Homo sapiens: one gene and its partners. The protein of the gene in region 2 purifies or fractionates together with the protein of the main gene of each other region. This does not show direct contact. Each region holds a gene or a part of one and is shown on either strand. Other genes may lie near its edges. The genes, in order: ABCB1, SLC26A3, CACNA2D1, LMTK2, ATP11B and TOM1L2.

Region 1 (3,500 bases), about 20 Mb from region 2:
TACCTCATATTAAAGCTCCATATTTTTATTCTTTTGTGCCTTAAAATGAATTATTGATAACATTGCCTCTATATAGTAGGTCTGTTAAATTTTCTAAAATATAAGACTCCTAAGGTTTAAAAAAATTTAACTACAAATAATAAAAACTGAAAGTCTCAAAGTGACAGCACTGAAATCCTGGGGATAAATACAACTTTAACCTAAACGCTTCTTTCCATACAAGAAAGTAACAATGAAAACTGTCACTTGGTTACTCAAGTAGCCTAAGAATGACTCAAGTACATAGTCTCATCTCACCAAAATTCCAAAGGGCGTAGAGATAGAATAAAAGCAGGAGTCATGGCAAGAGCAATGGTAGCACAGAGAAACGAAGATCACATAAGGGAACCATAGAGTCCTCAGTGTAAAAGTCACATGACTGTTTTTTCCCTACCTACAACTATTTTTATAGTCAATTTATTAAAATCCATTTTGCAAGACAATCTATCCACTCCCTTACCTTAAAAAAATTGCTGTGTTATGACTGAATTATAAAGCATGTGCTGTTGGACTTAATTGGTTTAGTAGTCTTCCAGGTTCTAATCTCTGGAATCTTTCACCTAACAGTTCACCTAAATTTGTACTCTTAGAAAAAAGGAAGTAAGAATCCAGGTAAATAAGAGGTCATTAACTAGGCAGAGGTTGCAGTGAGCCAAGATCACAGCACTGAGGTCATCAACCAACCACACATATATGATACATGTCTGATTCCAAGTGTGATTAAAGAAAAGCTTCTAAAAAAACCACTGTGCAACCAGAAAATGAAATAAAGAGTTACAATAAGGTTTTCGAATTCTAGATTTTCATCTGTTTAACACAGGGGAATAATGGCATATGACATATTTGAAATCATAGTAATAAATAATCCATTGCTACCTTTTATTGTTAGTAATGGATTTTGAACTAAAATTTGCAATGGACTAACCTAAATGACCTAAAATTTGCATAGTAATAAATAATCCATTGCTAACTTTTATTGATAGCAACTGACTTTGACCTAAAAAACCTGCCAAATTTCAGAGCCATTAAAGACAGCATTCTATGTGATTGGTTTCCTCTATGCAGATGGGAGAGGTGCTTGTGTAGGTAATGGATCACTGGCAACATAATTCATTAGAAGAATTGAAATCTAAGTCAGGAATGGTGGCTGTAGATTAGTAATATAGATAGCAAGTTATGATCAGCATTCTCCTGAAAATAAGCTAAATCAAACCAATTTATTTTGCATCTCCATTAACATACCCTATACGAAAATCTTACATCAGATGAAATATCTCTTTTCCATGTAAGGAGATGTCAAATTTCCGAAGTATTTTGAATAGTTAATAAATTCAAAACTCACCATTGAAAATACACTGACAGTTGGTTTCTTTTCCTTCTTATCTTTTTCACTGCAAAACAGCAATGGAATTACATAAAACTTTAAAAAGTACATATTTTTTAAATTACCCAAATTAACATAGAATGTATATTTAATGACTAATAGGAAGAAGAAATATGTCTATATTATACAGTTAAAAAACAGGATGATAATAGTATGACCCCATTTATAATGTTTAAATATGTTTACATATATCTTAGAAATCTACATACGTGGTTATCACTGAGTGCTGGAATCTCTCTAAAAATATTTTCTTCCTTGTGCCTTTGATATTTCCTGATTTGCTATGATGAATACATACATACACCCTTTGCAATTAGAAAAATATACATACTGAAAAGAGTTCCCTGTTTTTATTCTAATTAGAAAATCATTCATGCTTCCCCTTAATTATGAATCCCCTTAATTGTCATTTGATTAATGATGGCAGTAGACATTTTATCCATCCACTACCCAGATATTATTCTTAATCCTTCCCTTTCTAGTGAAGAGAAGTGGCAATTAGATGCTGGGCATAACTAGCCTCAGAAGAAAATTAAATTACTCCTTATAAGCAAATCTAATTGTGAAAAAAATGTCTGGAGTCCTAAATGGACCATTATGAAATAAATGCACGCTAGAAAGCTATGGTCAGAAATGATGTTCTATAAATTGTCAAAAAGTTCTCCTCAGGCATAAGGTCAACTATTATTTTGAGCCCAGATACAAATGAATCTAACTCTGTAGCCCATTTTCTACTCTGTGTAACTGCTACCTAGGATGTGAAAGCAAACCAACCGTAACAAATCTGCCTCATCTGTATTTTTGTAGGTATAAAAGAAAAACTATTTTAGAAAAGATTTGTGTTATTTTTTACACGGTTTTTAAGTTCATAAGGTAAATTCATCTTTGTCTTTGTTCTTTACACTAAGTGAGGTCAAAAGAGGTGAGGAGACTTCTAAAGAAAAAAATCCAGAGTTTACCCATTTGGCTTTGGAGTAATGTTAGACAGACATAAAATACACAAACACAACTCTTCAGGTTTGGTCCCACCCAATTCCCAGTAAAGGCATGGTTTCAGTATCCCTGGAACCAGGATGAAAGGAGAAAAATAGCCATAAATAGTTGAGTTTTAGCTCTAAGCCTTTTATTTATTTTTTTGTTCTCTAAAACAGCTGCTACTCTGGAGAAGTTATAATGTTCCAGGCACTGGCTAAGTAAGCACTTCCCACACACAATTCATAAACAATTCTATGAGGAAGACACATTTTTGTTCTTTTAGAGACGTAGAAGAGTGAGAAGAGTTAACTTGTCCAAGGTTCACAGCTATAACTAAGCCAATATTTAAATGCCAAGTCTGTTCCCTGACCACCAAACTATAAGGTGCAACCTCAGATTTCTGAGATACTGCATCGCATCACATTAAAATGCACTTTCACACAAACTCTCACCCCTACTAGATAACTTACTTATCCCCATTAGCACAAAAAACAGTGCTTAGAAAGACAAGTCATTCATCAAACATCATTTTAATAAAGAATCTTTGCTAATAGTCATATTCCAAATAGGACTATTATCCCAGCATTATCTATTACCAAAGCCATATGCTTCTTTACAATCCCATGTTAAAATAGATTTAAATCAATGGCAATGAACACAATTTAATAAGAACTACTTTAAAATATAATCTCTAATTTGAAAAAAAAAGTCTATAGGCCATGATAGAACCAATAATAGAAATATGTGAAAGATCATACAATTTTCTTTACTGTTTCTCTTCACATACCCTCAATATTTCTTAGTTAAATCTACCTAAATGTTTGTATCATAAGTACATAATTCTTTAAGCTATCAAGTTTTCAAAAATACAAAGTTAAAAACAAAAAGTGGAATACCTACCCTCCACTCTATGGAGTCTTTTTCATGGTTTATATGAACATTTTTGTTACAAAAATTTTCAATTGCAATTACATGTTCTCCTACCATTATCACATCTAAGAAAAGTGATTACAATTCTGATATTGGCTAATATCTAATGCACATTCAAATCTCCCAAGAATGTTTTCCATAGGATTTTTTCCTTGTTGAACTTTTAGATTGT
Region 2 (3,500 bases):
TAGGAGTATACCTCAGCAAACTCAAGGATCCGCAACTGAAATAATATTACACAAAACGTAAAGGCTCAACCTGTATGTACATGCCTTGAAGAAGCAAATGTCCCTGCCTCCTGGGACGCCTCCCACCCAGGGCTCCTCTCTCTCCTTCCCTTCCACCGCATCATCCAGGTGGAACGTCACATGGTATTCACATAGGATATAAGTCTAGTTTGCCCCCAAGAAGTAACAGGCTTATTTGCACTTAATTTATTTTTAAGTGTGCTGTCTTTGGAAGACTCATAGGCCTTTTCTAGTAGAATCTTACCTAGCATCAGCCCTCATAAATTTGCTGATGTAATTTTAAGTTATACTTTCTAGCTGCTGGAGCACGCATGAGCGAGTGTCTATCCTATTTCCTCAAAGTTGCTCAACTTGCTTAAGAAATACATAACTGCATATTGGACATCAGAAGTGCTTGGTTCTAGCTGGGGGAAAAGGATGGTTAATTCCCCCCTAAAGCATCATTGTTTTGCAATCGAGTGAATCGGATGGATTCTCCTTCCCTTGGATACTTGGCCTGTCTTTCTGCTCACATCTCCAGAACGCAGCCAGAGCTGTGGCTGCCCAAAGCCCAGTTGGGTTCCATTTCTATACTAAGTTCAGAAATGTATTAGAAATAACTAACCAAATTGTCAATAAGACGCATGCTTATGTCCTTGTAGAAACTGACTTTTCCTTTCTTTAAGAAATGGTCTTAACCAATAATATCATTATCCATAAACTTAGGCAACATCTCAAAAAGTCCATGACATTTTCAGTATTCAGCAGGAGTGTCAGCATACGGCTTGGAAGTGAGACTTTAGGCTCCACCATAATCCTCGTCAGTTTTCCCCAAAATTGACATGAACAGTTCAAAGCCCCCATCCCTTCCAACTAGATTATAGTTGCTGAAGAATTAAAGAAAAAAATTCCAAAGCCACCAGTATGACGATTTCTTGTATACAGTTATGTTTCTTGACTCTATCAATTCCCAGATATGCTGTTTCTTGACTCTATCAATTCCCAGATATATGTTGAAGCATTTCGCTTGTCACTGTTTGTGCCTCTCCATTCCCCTTCTTCCTTCTGTCTAGACCCACATTCATTCGTTTTTGTACTGTTGACCCACTCCTCTCCCTCTGGTTGTGGTGAGTGACCCTTCGTACAGTATTTCCTATGGGCCATGAGGGAGAGACAAACCAAAGGGAAGATGGGGAGGAGTGGCAGGGGGGAGGAAAAATAGAGAGATGTGTAACAGTCAAGATGAACAGATTGAGGTGGGCAAGTTACATGAGAAGGTGCTCACCTGGATGATTCCAGAAAGCACTGTGACTGATGCCGCCGCCGCCACCCTCACCCTCTCGTCATCCAGTAGTGAAGAATTATTCGAGTTGTTAGGCAATCCCAAAGTAGTTGCATTGCGATCTGGGACTGCTTTTGAAACTGCTCCTGAAACTGCTAGTCCCACCATCATACTCAGAATCGGAAACGGACCTAATTAACAGTGGGTGAATCGTGGTCAGTATATGCCTCTCTAAAGCACATTGTCTTTCAACCACAGAATAAGACCATATAAAATGACTGGCAAGGCTGGGCGTGGTGGCTCACGCCTGTAATCCCAGCACTTTGGGAGGCCGAGGCGGGTGGATCACCTGAGGTCGGGAGTTTGAGACCAGCCTGACCAACATGGAGAAGCCTCGTCTCTACCAACAATACAAAAATTAGTCAGGCGTGATGGTGCATGCCTGTAATCCCAGCTACTTGGGAGGCTGAGGCAGGAGAATCGCTTGAACCTGGGAGGTGGAGGTTGCAGTGAGCTGAGATCGTGCCACTGCACTCCAACCTGGGCCACAAGAGCAAAACTCCGTCTCAAAAAATAAATAAAAATAAATAAATAAATAAATAAATAAATAAAATGGCTGCCATCTGTGACCCTGCCCTCCATCTCAAACCCTGGTCCTAATTCTCACAGGAGACCATGACTCTTCTCCTGGATTATGTGAAATTTGGAATTGATAGAAGGTATGGCTAATAAAATTCATAAGGAAAAAACAATGTGAGCATTAATCAGCTCAGTAACTGACTTACCCACGGATATGTGTCTGGAAGTGCCGAAGAAAAGGTAGATTATGGCTGGGAAAAAGGATGCATACAACCCATAGACTGGGGGAATGTCGACCAGCAGAGCAAATGCTAAACCTGTAAACACACAAGCAGCAGAGCCCTTACTCTGTGCAAGAGGAATCAAAGACATTCTCATTTGGTTCTTATGGTATTTAGAATTGGATCCTAAAAATAAGTTACCTCATTAATTCAAAATGTATTAAAGATGTAAATGTAAGAACTAAAACTATAAAACTTTTAGAAGAAAGCATAGGTATAAATCTTTGTGACCTGGATTTGTCAATGGTTTCTTAGAAATGACACCTATGGCATAAGCCAGCAGTCCCCAACCTTTTTGGCACCAGAGACTGGTTTTGTGGAAGGTAATTTTTCCACTGACTAGGGAAGGGGAGATGGTTTTGGGATGACTCAAGTGTATTACATTTTTTGTGCACTTTATTTCTATTATTATTACATTGTAATATTTAATGAAATAATTATACAATTCACCATAATGTAGAATCAGTGGGAGCCCTGAGCTTGTTTTCCTGCAACTAGATGGTTCCCTCTGGGGGTGTTGGGAGACCGTGACAGATCATTAGGCATTAGATTCTCATAAGGAGCATGCAACCTAGATCCCTTGCGTGCACAGTTCACGATAGGGTTTGCACTCCTATGAGAATATAATGTTGTCGCTGATCTAACAGGAGGTGGAGCTCAGGAGGTAAAGAGAGCAATAAGGAGCGGCTGTAAATACAGGTGAGGCTTCATTTGCTCACCTGCCACTCACCTCCTGCTGTGTGGCCCAGTTCTTAACAGGCCACGGACCTGTACTGGTCTGTGGCCCAGGGACTGGGGACCCCTGGCATAAGCACCCAATGAAAAATACAGATAGACTGGACTTAATCACAATTTAAAAACGTGTACTTCAAAGGATACTATCAAGAAAGTTAACCAATAATTCACAGAATAAAAAAGTTATCTGCAAATTGTATATCTGACAAGGGTCTGGTATCCAGAATATAGAAACAACACTTGCAACTCCACAACAAAAAGACAAATAACCCAATTTAAAAATGGATAAAAACTTTGAATAGACATGTTTCAAAAGATATACAAATGGCCAATAAACACCTGGAAAAAATATTCAATATTGTTAGTCATTAGAGAAATGCAAATGCAAACCACAATGAGATACCACTTCACACTCACTGGGATAGCTAAAAGAAAAAAGATGGACAATAACAAGTGTTGATGATATGGAGAAATCTGAACCCTCATACACTGCTAGTGGAAATGTAAAATGGTGTAGCTACTTTAGAAAATAAGTTAGCAGTTCCACAAATGATTAAATATAGAGTTACCCTATGATCCAGCAA
Region 3 (2,417 bases), about 26 Mb from region 2:
TAAAAGAAGTCCAAAGTCTGATGAAGTACATTCCTAAGTGCCTTGATGGAGAAGGCATGTTAGAAGGTTAGACTTAAGTAAAGGCATCGCGAGTGAATTGACAGTCATCCCTCTGTGCGTGGGGGGGATCAGTTTCAGGATGCCCACGTGTATCAAAATCAATGCATACCCAAGTCAAGTCTGGAAAGTGGCCCCGCAGAATCTGAGTATACAGAAAGTAGGCACCTGGTATATGTGGGTTTTCCATCTTGCAAATACTGTATTTTCAATCTGCATTTGGTTGAAAAAAATCCACATATAAGTATATCCATGTGGTTCAAACATATGTTGTTCAAGGATTGACTGTATTTGTGTGAGTTGAGGTTTGTAATTGTAAAAGCACTATTTAATCCCAACTTTTATTTCCACAATCCAGAATTCTCTCTTAAAATTATTTATGACAGAGCCATCTGTCTCTTCCAACTGGATCTTTTAAAAAGCAGAAAACCCAAACCGCGTGGTGACTTTAAATGATAAACTTTTATTCTGAATATACTGTTTTTGCACAAGATTTAACACAACATTTTCTGGGATTATAAATATTTTATAACAGTATTATACAAATTTTTACAAAATGTTTTTATCAGGCTAGGTAATTTTCACAAAAGTGTCAAGAGAACAAAATAAAGGGGAGAAAAGATCTATTGTTCACAAAAGCCAGTTGGCCTTTTGCATGAATGCACACCATTTTAATAAAAGTATTCCTAAAAGCATGATCCGACACTCATACAACACAACAAAAAAGACAGCTTTACTAGGTCACATTATAAACTCAACTGGCATCTACACAAGACAGTATCCCATTAGTTTCAGTGGAATTTGAGATAACTGTGTGAACTAGAAATAAGGTAGATGAAGAGTTGTCTAATTCTTCAAAAATCTGGAATTTTTTTCAACACTCAAAACATTATATTGGTTTGCTCTTTACAGAAATGTACTGTGAATATTGACATTCTGCTATGGGAAACAATACAAGTTTAGATGAAAAAATATTTAAAATTTTGGGCAAGTGAAATAGTTATTTCATTCTATTCTTTAAAAAAAGTAACAACATCCATTTTGTTTCACTAGGTCAGACTATACCATTAAACATTTGAACGTCTAACATGATCAATGGAATAGATTCAGAGTTTTAAATGAAGACAAAATCTTAAGCTTTGTTGGTCACAGACAAAGATTTAAATGAGATTTAAAATACAAGAGAGCATCAAATAAGCAAGTAACACTTGGGTTGCAAAGGTCACTTAAAAGGGATACTGCCTATTTGAACCCGATAAGTCCAGTTTTAAAGTTAATAAAAGGAATATTATAGGAAAACTTACAAATGGCAGGAACACTGTTTTTTGTTTTTTTTTTTCCCAAGTTAAGCAGTAACACCTCAAGCATTAGAAACATGAAAAAAGATCATACTAAAATCTTATAGGCCCAGGACCTAAAAATCTCTTCAATCAAACTTGCTAACTATGTCATGTTAAAAACCTGTTACAAATATGGACCACGGTTGGTGTTTGGCAGTAATGCTGGTTGTTTAAATGAGGAAAATAAAAAGAAATCATTAATGCAAAATTCTTTCTTGTTACTCAACACCATTGCCAAGCTCACTTGAACTCTGTTTTAGTGACTAACTACACTAAGCCACATGAGTATAACAAAAATTAGTTAAAGCAGTGTATAAACTTTTTTATTGATCTGTTGTACTGTTCAGTCGTTGGAAATCAATATTAATAACAGGCTATAATTTAAGTTCTTGTCAATGTAACTCAGAAAAATACTAAATGTAATGTAATAATTTGATGGGATGAGTGTTACTGTCTTAAAAAATATGCTAAAAGCATGAAGACTAATATTAGTCATGGGAACAACTTTTATTCAGCTTGTTCTTACCCAATTTGTAATTGCATTTATGGTTGTCATAATATATAACTTTATAGCAGAAAATAAAGGTTTATAGCAAAACTCATGCATATAAATATATTTTGATGGCAACAGAAATTAAATAGGATCCTGCCAAGAGATGCCAAGTTTAACCGCGATTAATACAATAACAATGTAATTGATGAAAACATATACTCGACATTAGCCATGAAAATATATTTAATAGATTTTGAACATAATTTTAAGGTAGTTTGTTGTATGCTGGAAGCAATTCAATTGTTTTAATGTGCATTGTTTATATACACAAACTAACAATTTTATATTTTGATACCCCCTTCCCAACACTATCATGATTTAAGATAGTCTAGCAAAAATTGAACAATAACTTTTAAATATTTAACAAACAACATGATTAAAACATTGTTACTAGAGTGAGAAGTTTTTTTCCCCACATATATTTTAAATCACTTTGGTGTTTTCTAAAATGTCAATACCAGTTATGA
Region 4 (3,500 bases), 9.6 Mb from region 2:
TGCTCGGTCCAGGAGACTTGGGTCAAGCCCTAGCACTGCTACTCACTGGGGCCAGACCCTGTGCAAAGTTTACCTACTCTGAGCCTCAGGGTCCTCTCCATGAAGATGGTGACAACCACCCCCACATGGGGAAGCAAAACAAGACTCAATGTATAATAAAGGTGCTGGCACCCACAGACTGTTCACCAGCCTTTACTACTTTACACGGTAAGTGCTGGTTAAGTATTTGCTGAACTGACAAATAGTAATATAACCAAGAAACAATTGCTGCCCAATCCCATGAACACTCAGTTAAAAGTTTGGAGCCAAGATACTTCAACTGCTTAAAAACTACACAACTTCAAAACCAGCTCATTAAAAAAGAAAGCAGGAGTGGGAGGAAACCCTCAGTCCTCGGCCTGAACGCTTGGTGGCTGTCGCTTCAAGGCATGCTGCATGAGACGCATAAGCAAACGAATTTCAGATCATCAGAAAGATCTTCCTCATTTTCTTCTGGCCCTGACCCACCTTCCGACTTTCTCCTTGACACTAACTTCCTTGTCAAAGCCTCGCGTCCATTAAGCATGTCTGGTATTTGATCTCTGTACCTTCCATCCCATAACTAGAGTGCCCTTGTCACAGATCTTCATCTTTTGCAATTCTGTCTTCTAAAGTCAGAAAAACATAACATCCTCCACAAAGACTTGTGCAAGGGGCCCATACTCTGCGGCCCCAGGGAGTTTTCTCCACAGGCTGCTTCCACTGGGACTGCGTCCCTCTCACTACTCCAGCTACCCCCAGGCTTTCAGGAAGTGGGGACAGCGTGCTCCCTAGCTCCTAACCGCACTGCTCACCGAGCACAGTTGACAGTTCCGTCCCACCTATACATTACCCCATCCATGGAGAAATGCAGCGATAATCCAAGTTCACAGAGACGGTGGAGAAAGGGCTATGTGGATGCATTGAAAACAAAACACAAACCCGAGGGGCCAGGTGATCCCTTCTCCCTTCCACTCTTACTAGAAAACGGCAGCGTGTTTTCTCAGGCTCCCTGAGCTCAGAGGCTCCTGAGTTCGAGATCTGCCTAGGAACCACCTGGGGAATGAAAAGAGAAAGACGGCCTCCTGGCCCCTCGCAGAATCAGGTTCAAGAGGTCAGGCTGAGCTCAGGAGGCTGCTTTTTTTTTTTTTTTTCTGAGACAGGTCTCACTCTGTCACCCAGGCTGGAGTGCAGTGGTGCAATCTTGGCTCACTGCAACCTCTGCCTCCCAGGTTCAAGCAATTCTCATGCCTCAGCCTCCCAAGTAGCTGGGCCTGCAGTCTTGCCTACCGTGACTGGCTAATTTTTATATTTTTAGTAGAGATGGGGTTTCGCCATGTTGCCCAGGCTGGTCTTGAATTCCCGACGTCAGGTGATCCGCCCACCTTGGCCTCCCAAAGTGCTGGGATTACAGGCATAAGCCACCGCGCCTGGCCTTACTTTTCATTTTTTAAACATCCACTTCCCCGCCATATATGCTATAGCTCAAATGCGGGTGATTTAACGATTTTTAAAGAAACATCATAAAAACCAAAGTGAACAGAACACAGAGGAACAAGGCATAAAGTGACGTTCAACAGACGCAGCTCCTGGGGGAGGAGGTGGAACAGTGCTTGGACCCGCCATAGCCACGGACCCATGAGGGATGGTGCCACGCAGGGGCTGAGACCAAGGTCTGGGTTCCCAGAATGGAGCAAAAGGGAGGGCAAGCAATGTGAAGGAGACGGCGAGGACTCCTGCGCCTTCTAGAAGGTGAGGGGACCCCATTTTCATGTCCCACCACTGAGCTCTCCCAACAATCCAGCTGATGCAAGCAGCAAATTCAAGGGCTACAAAGACTAGTATGAAAAGAACTTTTTTTTTTTTTTTAAAGCATGCTTGAATTATCCGCTGTTACATTTTTAAAGGAGCCTAAATCCATGCCCACTCAGCAGTGCACACTAAGCTGCCTGCTCCAAAGCAGGGAAAGAGGACAGGTCAGGGGACAGAGCAGAAGGACCACAGACGCTCCTGCTGTGTGTCACACCCTCCAGACACCCACCGCAGGGCTTCTGGTTGGCCCCTCTCCTGAGCTGTCTCCAGGGCTGCACGCCAGCCATGGTTCCAGGCTTGTACCCAAGTGGTGGGTCCTACTGCCAATTGTCAGGCTCTAAAAATTGGAGGCCAAGCGCAGTGGCTCATGCCTGTAATCCCAAAACTTTGAGAGGCTGAGGTGGGAGGATGGCTTGAGCCCAGGAGTTTGAGAGCAGCCTAGGCAACATAGCAAGACCGTGTGTCTACAAAAATTAAAAACAAAACAAAACAAAAAAAACACCAAAACCTTAGCCAGCCATGGTGGCATGAACCTGTGGGCCCAGCTATTATGGAAGGTGGGAGGATCACTTGAGCCCAGGAGTTCAAGGCTGCAGTGAGCTGCAACTGTACCACTGCATTCCAGCCTGGGCCACAGAGCAAGGCTGTCTCAAAAGAAAAATAAAAAAGTAAAACAGTAAAAATTTGGTGTGTAAAGGGTGACTAATTCAGGAAGACTCCATTAGAAGACCCAGGAAGAGCATTCGGGTCTCTTTCTCTTAATTTAATACGAACTCCCTGAGCAAATGACATTTCTGCATATTCTTAGAACTCTAACCAACCCCAAATTACTTTTTGTGAGTAATCACAATCTGCTGCCTCAAAATGGCAACTAGAAAACAGACCACACTCAATTTCCTAGCACATTTTGGAATCCTTATATGGATGTGTATAGAAAATGATTTAGAGGGAACAGATACCTGGTCAAACAGGTAGACTGTGACATCATCGAAAAACGTGACTGCCTTCTTTTCCTTCTTCCAGTCCTCGGGCAGTGGGTCGGGGGCATTGGCCGCTGTGGGCTTCAACAGACTCCGCAGGTGCCTTCCGTCCTCGTTGCTGAGGATGATGGGCACGGGGTGCTCGGTCTCGTCCTCCGACTCGGAGCTGAGGCTATGCAGGTTGAAGGCCCGCAGGTCCTCGTCCGAGTCGTCGCTGTTTTCGTCCTCCTCGTCTGCATCCATCCCGTCCTCTGAGAGGTCGAGCATCCCTGACACCCCGAGTTTCCCCAGGTACTTCCCTTCGATGTCCGGCTCCTTCAACTTCGGGCCCTCGGAGTGGCTGGACAGGGACTTGTCCAGCGCAGAATTGGTGTAGGCAAGGAGTTCGTTCGTGTTGGTCCCCGTGGAAGCGAGGGTGCAGGGGCGATCGTCCTGTGTCTCGAAGTCATCGCCGCTGCTAAGTTCTGCATTCAGCACACTCCAGGGACTGCTGGCCTCGTCTTCCGTGGGATGCACCTGCTGGGGAACACCAGTCTGTGCTGGCTCCGGCGTGGCTCTTAATTCCAGGTCACTGGAGTTGTGCAAAGCAGACAGACAACTTTCATCTGGCTGGCTCTTTCTGGCTTCCAGGCAGCTATCCTGGGCAGCAGGACTTTGCTCGGGGAGGACTGGCTCGGGTAGGGGCTGCTC
Region 5 (3,500 bases), on a different chromosome or scaffold from region 2:
GCGGAGCTTGCAGTGAGCCGAGATTGCACCACTGCACTCCAGCCTGGGAGACAGAGTGAGACTCTGTCTCAAAAATAAATAAATAAATAAATAAATGGATCAACTTGTGGTTAAACATGACAGGTTGAGCACATTTAATTATCTCTGGTTCTCTTAAAACTTCACCATGAGGATAAAAAAAAAAACAGAAAAAGAACAAAAATAATGGTAAAAAAGTCAGCATGAGAGGGAAGATTGACACAAGTTTGGAAGATGGAAAAGGAGATGAATGAGTGGTAACTGATGTACCAGAACTTAGAATCTGAAACCCAAGTGATGAGAAAACCCATTCTCAGAAACGCTCAGGAAGTAGACCTACCAGCTACCCCTGAATGTGGGAGTACAGGATGAGGCTGAAAATACAAGCTATCAGGAGTAGTTTAAATTCTGAAATCTCTTTAAAAGTTGCAAACTTCAGAACGCCCCTCATTTATTGGAGCAACAGCTGGAAGGTGTATTCCCCTAGTAGGCTGAACTGGACAGAATCTGGTCTCCGCAGACAGCTGAACACAGAAGGGAGGCAGTGCACTAAAAACAGGTATCCAATGGCCAGCTCTAGCAGCCATAAGCAGCAGAAATATTACCTGCTGGGCCTGTCAGCTCATTACCTTAAGGTGTGGCCCACTGAATCAATAGCTTCTGATAAGCATATTAGTGCCTGAGGTTTTTTTTGTTTTTTTTTTTTAGACAGGGTTTCACTCTTGTCACCCAGGTTGGAGTGCAATGGCACAATCTGGGCTCACTGCAACCTCCATCTCCTGGGCTCAAGTGATTCTCCTACCTTAGCCTCCCAGGTAGCTGGGACCACAGGCACACACCACTGCGCCCAGCTAATTTTTGTATTCCAGCTAGTATTTGTATTTTTTGTTTTTGTATTTTTTTGTAGAGATGGGGTTTTGCCATGTTCTCCAGGCTGGTCTTGAACTCCTGGGCTCAAGTGATCTACCCACCTTGGCCTCCCAAAGTGCTGGGATTACAGGCATGAGCCACTGAGCCCAGCCTTTCATTTTTTTTTTTTTTTGAGACAGGGTCTCACTCTGTTGCCCAGGCTGGAGTGCAGTGGTGTGACCAGGGTTCACTGCAGCCTCGATTTCCTGGGCTCAAGTCATCCTCTCACCTCAGCCTCCTGGGTAGAGTACTTTTAAATTTGAAATGATAGCCAAAGATTAGCATCCATTTGAGGATCACTCCTTACATAAAAGGTAGAATCTGAAACAAATTATAATCAGTTCTGTTGTAACACTGTCTTGAAAACACAAATTTATCCCAATGCAACTGATACAATAAGAGACAATTTGAGCATAATCAAAACTTTGTGCAAATTTTGCCCAAAACTCAGTTACTAGCTATCTCAGTTCACCATGTGTTATGAGTCACACTCATCCACATCTGGTATTACAACCTTCCCTCTGATTTCAGATAACCTTCCCTTTCACACTTCACAGTAACACTTAAGTTGCAACCCTTCTGATGCCTATCTTCCACAGGCAAACTTCAGGTCCAGGTAAGTGCCGTATTTATTGAAGCATTTGTGTATTCATGAACAATTTGGCAAGTGCTGTTTTTATTAGGTTCCTATCTTTTAAAAAATGTATTATTAGGCTGGGCACAGTGGCTCACACCTGTAATCCCAGCACTTTGGGAGGCCAAGGTGGGAGGATCACCTGAGGTCGGGAGTTTGAGACCAGCCTGACCAATATGGAGAAACCACGTTTCTACTAAAAATACAAAATTAGCCGGGCGTGGTGGCACATGCCTGTAATCCCAGCTACTCGGGAGGCTGAGGTAGAAGAATTGCTTGAACCCAGGAGGCGGAGGTTGCAGTGAGCCAAGATTGCGCCATTGCACTCCAGCCTGGGCAACAAGAGCAAAACTCCGTCTCAAAAAAAAAAAAAAAAAGTATTATTGTTTTTGTGTTGTACCCCTAATCCCATTCTCTCATAAACCCTGTGGCTTTTACTAGGCAATTTTGCATTATGCAGTGAATTTTAGGAACGCATATATCACATTATAGCAGAACTGGCTGTTCTGGAAAATGCACTACAAGCAAAGATAATAGAGGGAGCAGAAGAAGACTTCAATTGACTGTCATTAATATCCTCGGGGAGGTAAAAGAATAGATTATGTTCAAGAAATGGGATAAGAGGCAATTTTAAAAAACTATCCAGAGAATACCAAAATATTAGAAATTAAAAATATTATAGCAGAAATAAATCAAAAGATACTGAAAAGATAAATCAGAGGCATTCTACCAGAAAGTAGAATATAAAAACAAATAAATAAAAACTGAAAATTGAAGTCAGAGAATTAAAGGGTCAATATAAGTGGTAGGACATGCAAATAGTAAGTTTCAAAACAAGAGAAACATAGAAAGACATGTTATCAAAACAATAGTACAAGAAAATTTCCTAGAATTGAAAGACATGTATTTCCAGGATGAAAAGACTCACAGAGTTAATTGCCCATGAAACAAAAAATAAAAAAGGAAAAACGAACACCAAGGTACACCATCATGAATTTCAGAACTATTGCATAAGGAGATCCTAAAGCTTCCAGAGATAAAACAACAGATCATACATAAAGAATTGGGAATCAGAATGGAACTGGATTTCTCTAACAGCAACACTGGAGGCTAGAAAACAATAAAATCCCTTCAAATTTCTGAAGATTTCAATCTGCAATGCAATAACAGCTAAATTATTAATCAAGTGTGAAAAGAGAATAAAGATATTTTCAGACATGCCAAGTTTCAAAACATTATCCTCTGATACATCCTTTCTCAGGAAGTTATTAGAAGATGTACAGCACCAAAAGAGAATAAGCCACAGGTAGGAAGACATGGGATGCAAGAAAGAGGAGATCCAAAACAGGAGAGAGGCAAAGGAATTTCCAGGGTGATGGTAAAGTGAAGTCCAGAGTGACAGCTGAGAAGCAAGCCCAGAAAGAGTAAAGAATAATCCAATCGGAGCAGAAAGGTGGAAGCCTCCAAAAACATTGCTACCAAAAAAAAAAAAAAGGAAGGCAGGGAGGAAGAAAGGAACTTCTAGATTACCTGGTATGTTTGAATATATAGACAGATGCTGCACATATTATCAGAGACTTGTTTGTGGCACATGGAAATTGAGGAAATGAAAAAACAGAGCAAATAACTCTTGGGAAAACAAAATATATAAGAAGGGAAATGTAATTATGGTATTACAGGACACATCTATAGAACCGGGAATTAGTGAACAATATTAAAACAATCATAATAATGTTAATAAAAATATTTATTAAATCCCAAATTGTGATATGATAGTATTAGGGGGCTATGGAGAAGCAAAGGGATATGTGTCTGGGAAGAGTAGTGTAAGAGTTATGTCTTTATATTCCATAGTAGATAATGTCTAAAACTTAAGAATAAGAAAGAATATCAAATAGAAATATAGTGGTAAATAACAAAAGAAACAACTTAGGGTTTA
Region 6 (3,500 bases), on a different chromosome or scaffold from region 2:
ACCTCCTCCTCTAGCAATTCTCCTGCTTCAGCCTCCCGAGTACCTGGGACTACAGGCGCACACTGCCATGCCCGGCTAATTTTTTTGTATTTTAGTAGAGACAGGGTTTCACCGTGTTGCGCAGGCTGGTCTCGAACTCCTGAGCTCAGGCAATCCACCCGCCTCGGCCTCCCAAAGTGCTAGGATTAAAGGCATGAGCCACCGCGACTGGCCCAATGTGAATATATTTAATGCCATTGAACTGCACACTTAAAACCAGTTAAAATTGTAAATTTTGGGCCTGGTGTGGTGGCTCACGCCTGTAATCTCAGCACTTTGGGAGGCTGAGGTGGGTGGAATCACAAGGTCAAGAGATCGAGACCAACCTGGCCAACATGGTGAAACCCTATCTCTACTAAAATTGCAAAAAATTTAGCTGGGCGTGGTGGCGCGTGCCTGTAGTCCCAGCTACTTGGGAGGCTGAGGCAGGAGAATCGCTTGAACCTGGGAGGCAGAGGTTGCAATGAGCCGAGGTCGTGCCACTGCACTCCAGCCTGGGCAACAGAGTGAGACTCCGTCTCAAAAAAAAAAAAAATGTAAATTTTGTTATATATATTTTATCAGGTTTTTTTTTTAAAGAATAAATAGAAACAGGTGCCCTCATGGAACATTTAGTCTAAATGATGTAAAACATAACAACACATTTTGCTTTTACATACTCACTTGACCCCTGTAAGATGTGATGGTGCAAGTGTTCTTGTACTCCCTTCACCACCACAGTTTACAGATTGGGAAACTGAGTTTTAGCACAGTTACTGGACTCATACAAAAGCAGTCGCATCGAGAAGCAAAGATGGGACTGACTCCAATCTAGAACAAAGAGTGCTAAGTGCTGGAAGAGAACAAAGAGAGAGCAATGGGAATCCACATTCCTATTGGTGGAACTATGCTATCTTTCTGGAATTCCTATTTGAAATCAGTTTAGGCTCCTTCTTGTCCAAATGGAAACAGACCATGCTTGATGTCTAAAAGGCAACATGAACAAAGAAAAACGCTGGAGCTAGAGCCCCTGGCTGGAGAGGACCGCTCCGCCTACTTGAGCCAGGAAACCTTGGGCAAGTTTCTGAACCCCTTTAAGTCTCTATTTCTTCACCTGTAAGATGAAGATAACAGTGCTTCCAGAGAAAAAAATTTTTAAATGAGATAAGTATGCACAGCACTCAGCAAGGTGCCTGGCACATGGTGAGGGGCCAGGAAATGATGGCTAGTAATGTTAGCTTTCAAAGATGCTAAATACCAGTGACAAAAAGAGTGAATAACTATGAAGAATATACTCTACCATGTGCTGTGAAGGTCACAAGGAAACAGAAAGTAGAGGAGCCTCCAGCCTTATTCAGAAGGTATGGCAATAAACACATGATAAATAACACAAGATAAATAACAACAGTAACAGTGGAGGGAAGGAATCAAGAAGTCTATATTAGTTGATTGCAGGACACCGTGCTAGGGATTTTAAGCACATTATCTCATTTAATCGTCACAAAAACCTGGAGGACAAGTAATATTTTCTGTTTTATAGATAAGAGAAGAGCCAAATGAATGATATGGATAGCAAGCACTGTGAGCTCAGAGAAGAGATTCATCACCATAAACAGGGTGGTCTAGGAAGGCTGCCTGTAGGAAGAGGTGAGGGCTGATGGGCATCAGGCTTGATGACTGAATGGAGAAAAGCAGAGAATCTCCTAAATCAAGAAGGTTGGAGGGAGCAATAACATATGTAACCAAGTCTGAGACTGGTTTTAAAAGTCGCCTCTTTTAACCTCAACAAGCCGGGTCAGCAGGAAAAGCCTGAATGTTATTTATATCTTCTCAGACTACTAGGTTAGCGCAACATTTCTGGGTGATTTATCTGCTAGGTCAAGAGCAACAACCCCTAACTGATGCTCCTCTGGGCAATGTATTTACACCGTTTTCCTTTCCTAATATCCCAAGTAAATAAATAAATAAATGTAGATTATACAGAAATATGCTAAAAGTTGTTCTACAATGTCGCCTCTTCAAGGCATGAGAAGATGAAGAGTGAAATACAAAAGTATTCCATTATGTGAAATAAGCATCTCAACAAATTTGTGAGGACGCACATTGTGGAGATTTTTTTCTCCTTTGCATTTTTTCTATATCTTTCATATTTTCTATCGGTTATACATCGTTTTGTAAAAAGCACAATGAAAGGCTGGGCACAGTGGCTGAAACCTATAATCCCAGCACTTTGGGAGGCTGAAGCGGGAGGATCACTTGAGCCCAGTAGGTTGAGGCTTTAACTACGATCCTGCCACTGCATTCCAGCCTGGGCGACAAAGCAAGACCCTGTCTCAAAAAAAATAAATAAATAAAAAGCACAATTATATGAGAATTTTAGATATTCCGATAGCCCACTCCTAAGCAGTGGCATTCCTCTAGAAAAGCCCTGGGAATAGGTCAGCCCTGTCATTGCATATGATAAACAGAGCAGGAGGAGGAGCAGGCTGACGCCCCACGTGACTTTCAATGTCAGGGGTTTTAAGACCTGTCCAGGCAATTAAGGACAAATGCTCTAGACTAGACTTCTTCTCAATGCTCCATCAACCTGCCTTGGCACCTTTCTGTTTCTGAGGGGGCTTCATAGACAGTGTCCCTACCCTTGACCACAGCTGACATCCCCCCTCCTTCCCCCACCTTCCCTCCCCAATTCTGCACAGAAGCGGGCTTTCATGGTAGAGAGAATGATCTTCTGGTGACTGCTAAGGAGAAATCTCCCTACCTCTGTAATGATATTCATGCTTCCATGCTATTCCCCTCCCTAGAAGTCTTTCATGCCTCCCCAGTACCTCTAAAATATAGTTCAAACTACTTAGCCAACATATGAAGCAAGCCCTCCACACAATCAGGCCTTATCCTCCCTTCCCAGTCTCACCCCCTATCACTCCCCTTTGCTAGGCACACAGAATAAATCCCATCACCCCCGCCTACCTCTTAACATCCAGCATTTGCTCAAGTTGTCTCTGCCAAGAAACCAAACATCCTTTTCCATTTCTACACAAACCAAATCCTCCCCATTCATCAAAGCCCTGCTCAGCAGACACCACCTCCTCAGAGTTTTCCTGAGTTCTTCCTTCCCTCCTACAGTGTTCCTCCTCACTTTACTCTTGCTGAGGGCAGCACAGCGTGACAGGATACCAGCTCTGGAGCCAGAATGCTGCATTCAGACTATAGCTCCCTCACTGCTAGCTGTGTGACCTTAGGTAGGTTCCATACTTTCTCATTGTCTTAATGTCCCCATCTGAAAATGGAGATAATCACAGTACCTTCCTCACAGCATTGTTGTGAGGATCGAATGACTGCAAGATGTATAAAGTGCCCACTTCAGTCTCTGGCACATAGGAATACAACATTAAACTTTTTTTAAAACCCCAAAAACGGGGCCGGGCATGGTGGCTCACACCTGTAATCCCAGCACTTTGGGTGGCCAAGGTGGGTGGATC

What was found.
Region 1: the proteins of SLC26A3 (region 2) and ABCB1 purify together in Homo sapiens (affinity purification with mass spectrometry; one large-scale study listed by BioGRID and IntAct). This does not show direct contact.
Region 3: the proteins of SLC26A3 (region 2) and CACNA2D1 purify together in Homo sapiens (affinity purification with mass spectrometry; one large-scale study listed by BioGRID and IntAct). This does not show direct contact.
Region 4: the proteins of SLC26A3 (region 2) and LMTK2 purify together in Homo sapiens (affinity purification with mass spectrometry; one large-scale study listed by BioGRID and IntAct). This does not show direct contact.
Region 5: the proteins of SLC26A3 (region 2) and ATP11B purify together in Homo sapiens (affinity purification with mass spectrometry; one large-scale study listed by BioGRID and IntAct). This does not show direct contact.
Region 6: the proteins of SLC26A3 (region 2) and TOM1L2 purify together in Homo sapiens (affinity purification with mass spectrometry; one large-scale study listed by BioGRID and IntAct). This does not show direct contact.

What each region holds. Positions count from the first base shown.
Region 1 is NC_000007.14:87,594,385-87,597,884, forward strand, and holds part of ABCB1 (ATP-dependent translocase ABCB1), read right to left. Parts: intron 1,431-3,500; coding exon 1,382-1,430; intron 1-1,381. UniProt on the Homo sapiens protein: Translocates drugs and phospholipids across the membrane. Catalyzes the flop of phospholipids from the cytoplasmic to the exoplasmic leaflet of the apical membrane.
Region 2 is NC_000007.14:107,789,724-107,793,223, forward strand, and holds part of SLC26A3 (chloride anion exchanger), read right to left. Parts: intron 2,218-3,500; coding exon 2,107-2,217; intron 1,513-2,106; coding exon 1,325-1,512; intron 1-1,324. UniProt on the Homo sapiens protein: Mediates chloride-bicarbonate exchange with a chloride bicarbonate stoichiometry of 2:1 in the intestinal epithelia. Plays a role in the chloride and bicarbonate homeostasis during sperm epididymal maturation and capacitation.
Region 3 is NC_000007.14:81,945,944-81,948,360, forward strand, and holds the end of CACNA2D1 (voltage-dependent calcium channel subunit alpha-2/delta-1 isoform 1 preproprotein), read right to left. Parts: 3' UTR 501-2,417; downstream 1-500. UniProt on the Homo sapiens protein: The alpha-2/delta subunit of voltage-dependent calcium channels regulates calcium current density and activation/inactivation kinetics of the calcium channel. Plays an important role in excitation-contraction coupling.
Region 4 is NC_000007.14:98,193,862-98,197,361, reverse strand, and holds part of LMTK2 (serine/threonine-protein kinase LMTK2 precursor), read right to left. Parts: coding exon 2,790-3,500; intron 1-2,789. UniProt on the Homo sapiens protein: Phosphorylates PPP1C, phosphorylase b and CFTR.
Region 5 is NC_000003.12:182,859,504-182,863,003, reverse strand, and holds part of ATP11B (phospholipid-transporting ATPase IF), read right to left. Parts: intron 1-3,500. UniProt on the Homo sapiens protein: Catalytic component of a P4-ATPase flippase complex which catalyzes the hydrolysis of ATP coupled to the transport of aminophospholipids, phosphatidylserines (PS) and phosphatidylethanolamines (PE), from the outer to the inner leaflet of intracellular membranes.
Region 6 is NC_000017.11:17,962,401-17,965,900, forward strand, and holds part of TOM1L2 (TOM1-like protein 2), read right to left. Parts: intron 1-3,500. UniProt on the Homo sapiens protein: Acts as a MYO6/Myosin VI adapter protein that targets myosin VI to endocytic structures. May also play a role in recruiting clathrin to endosomes. May regulate growth factor-induced mitogenic signaling.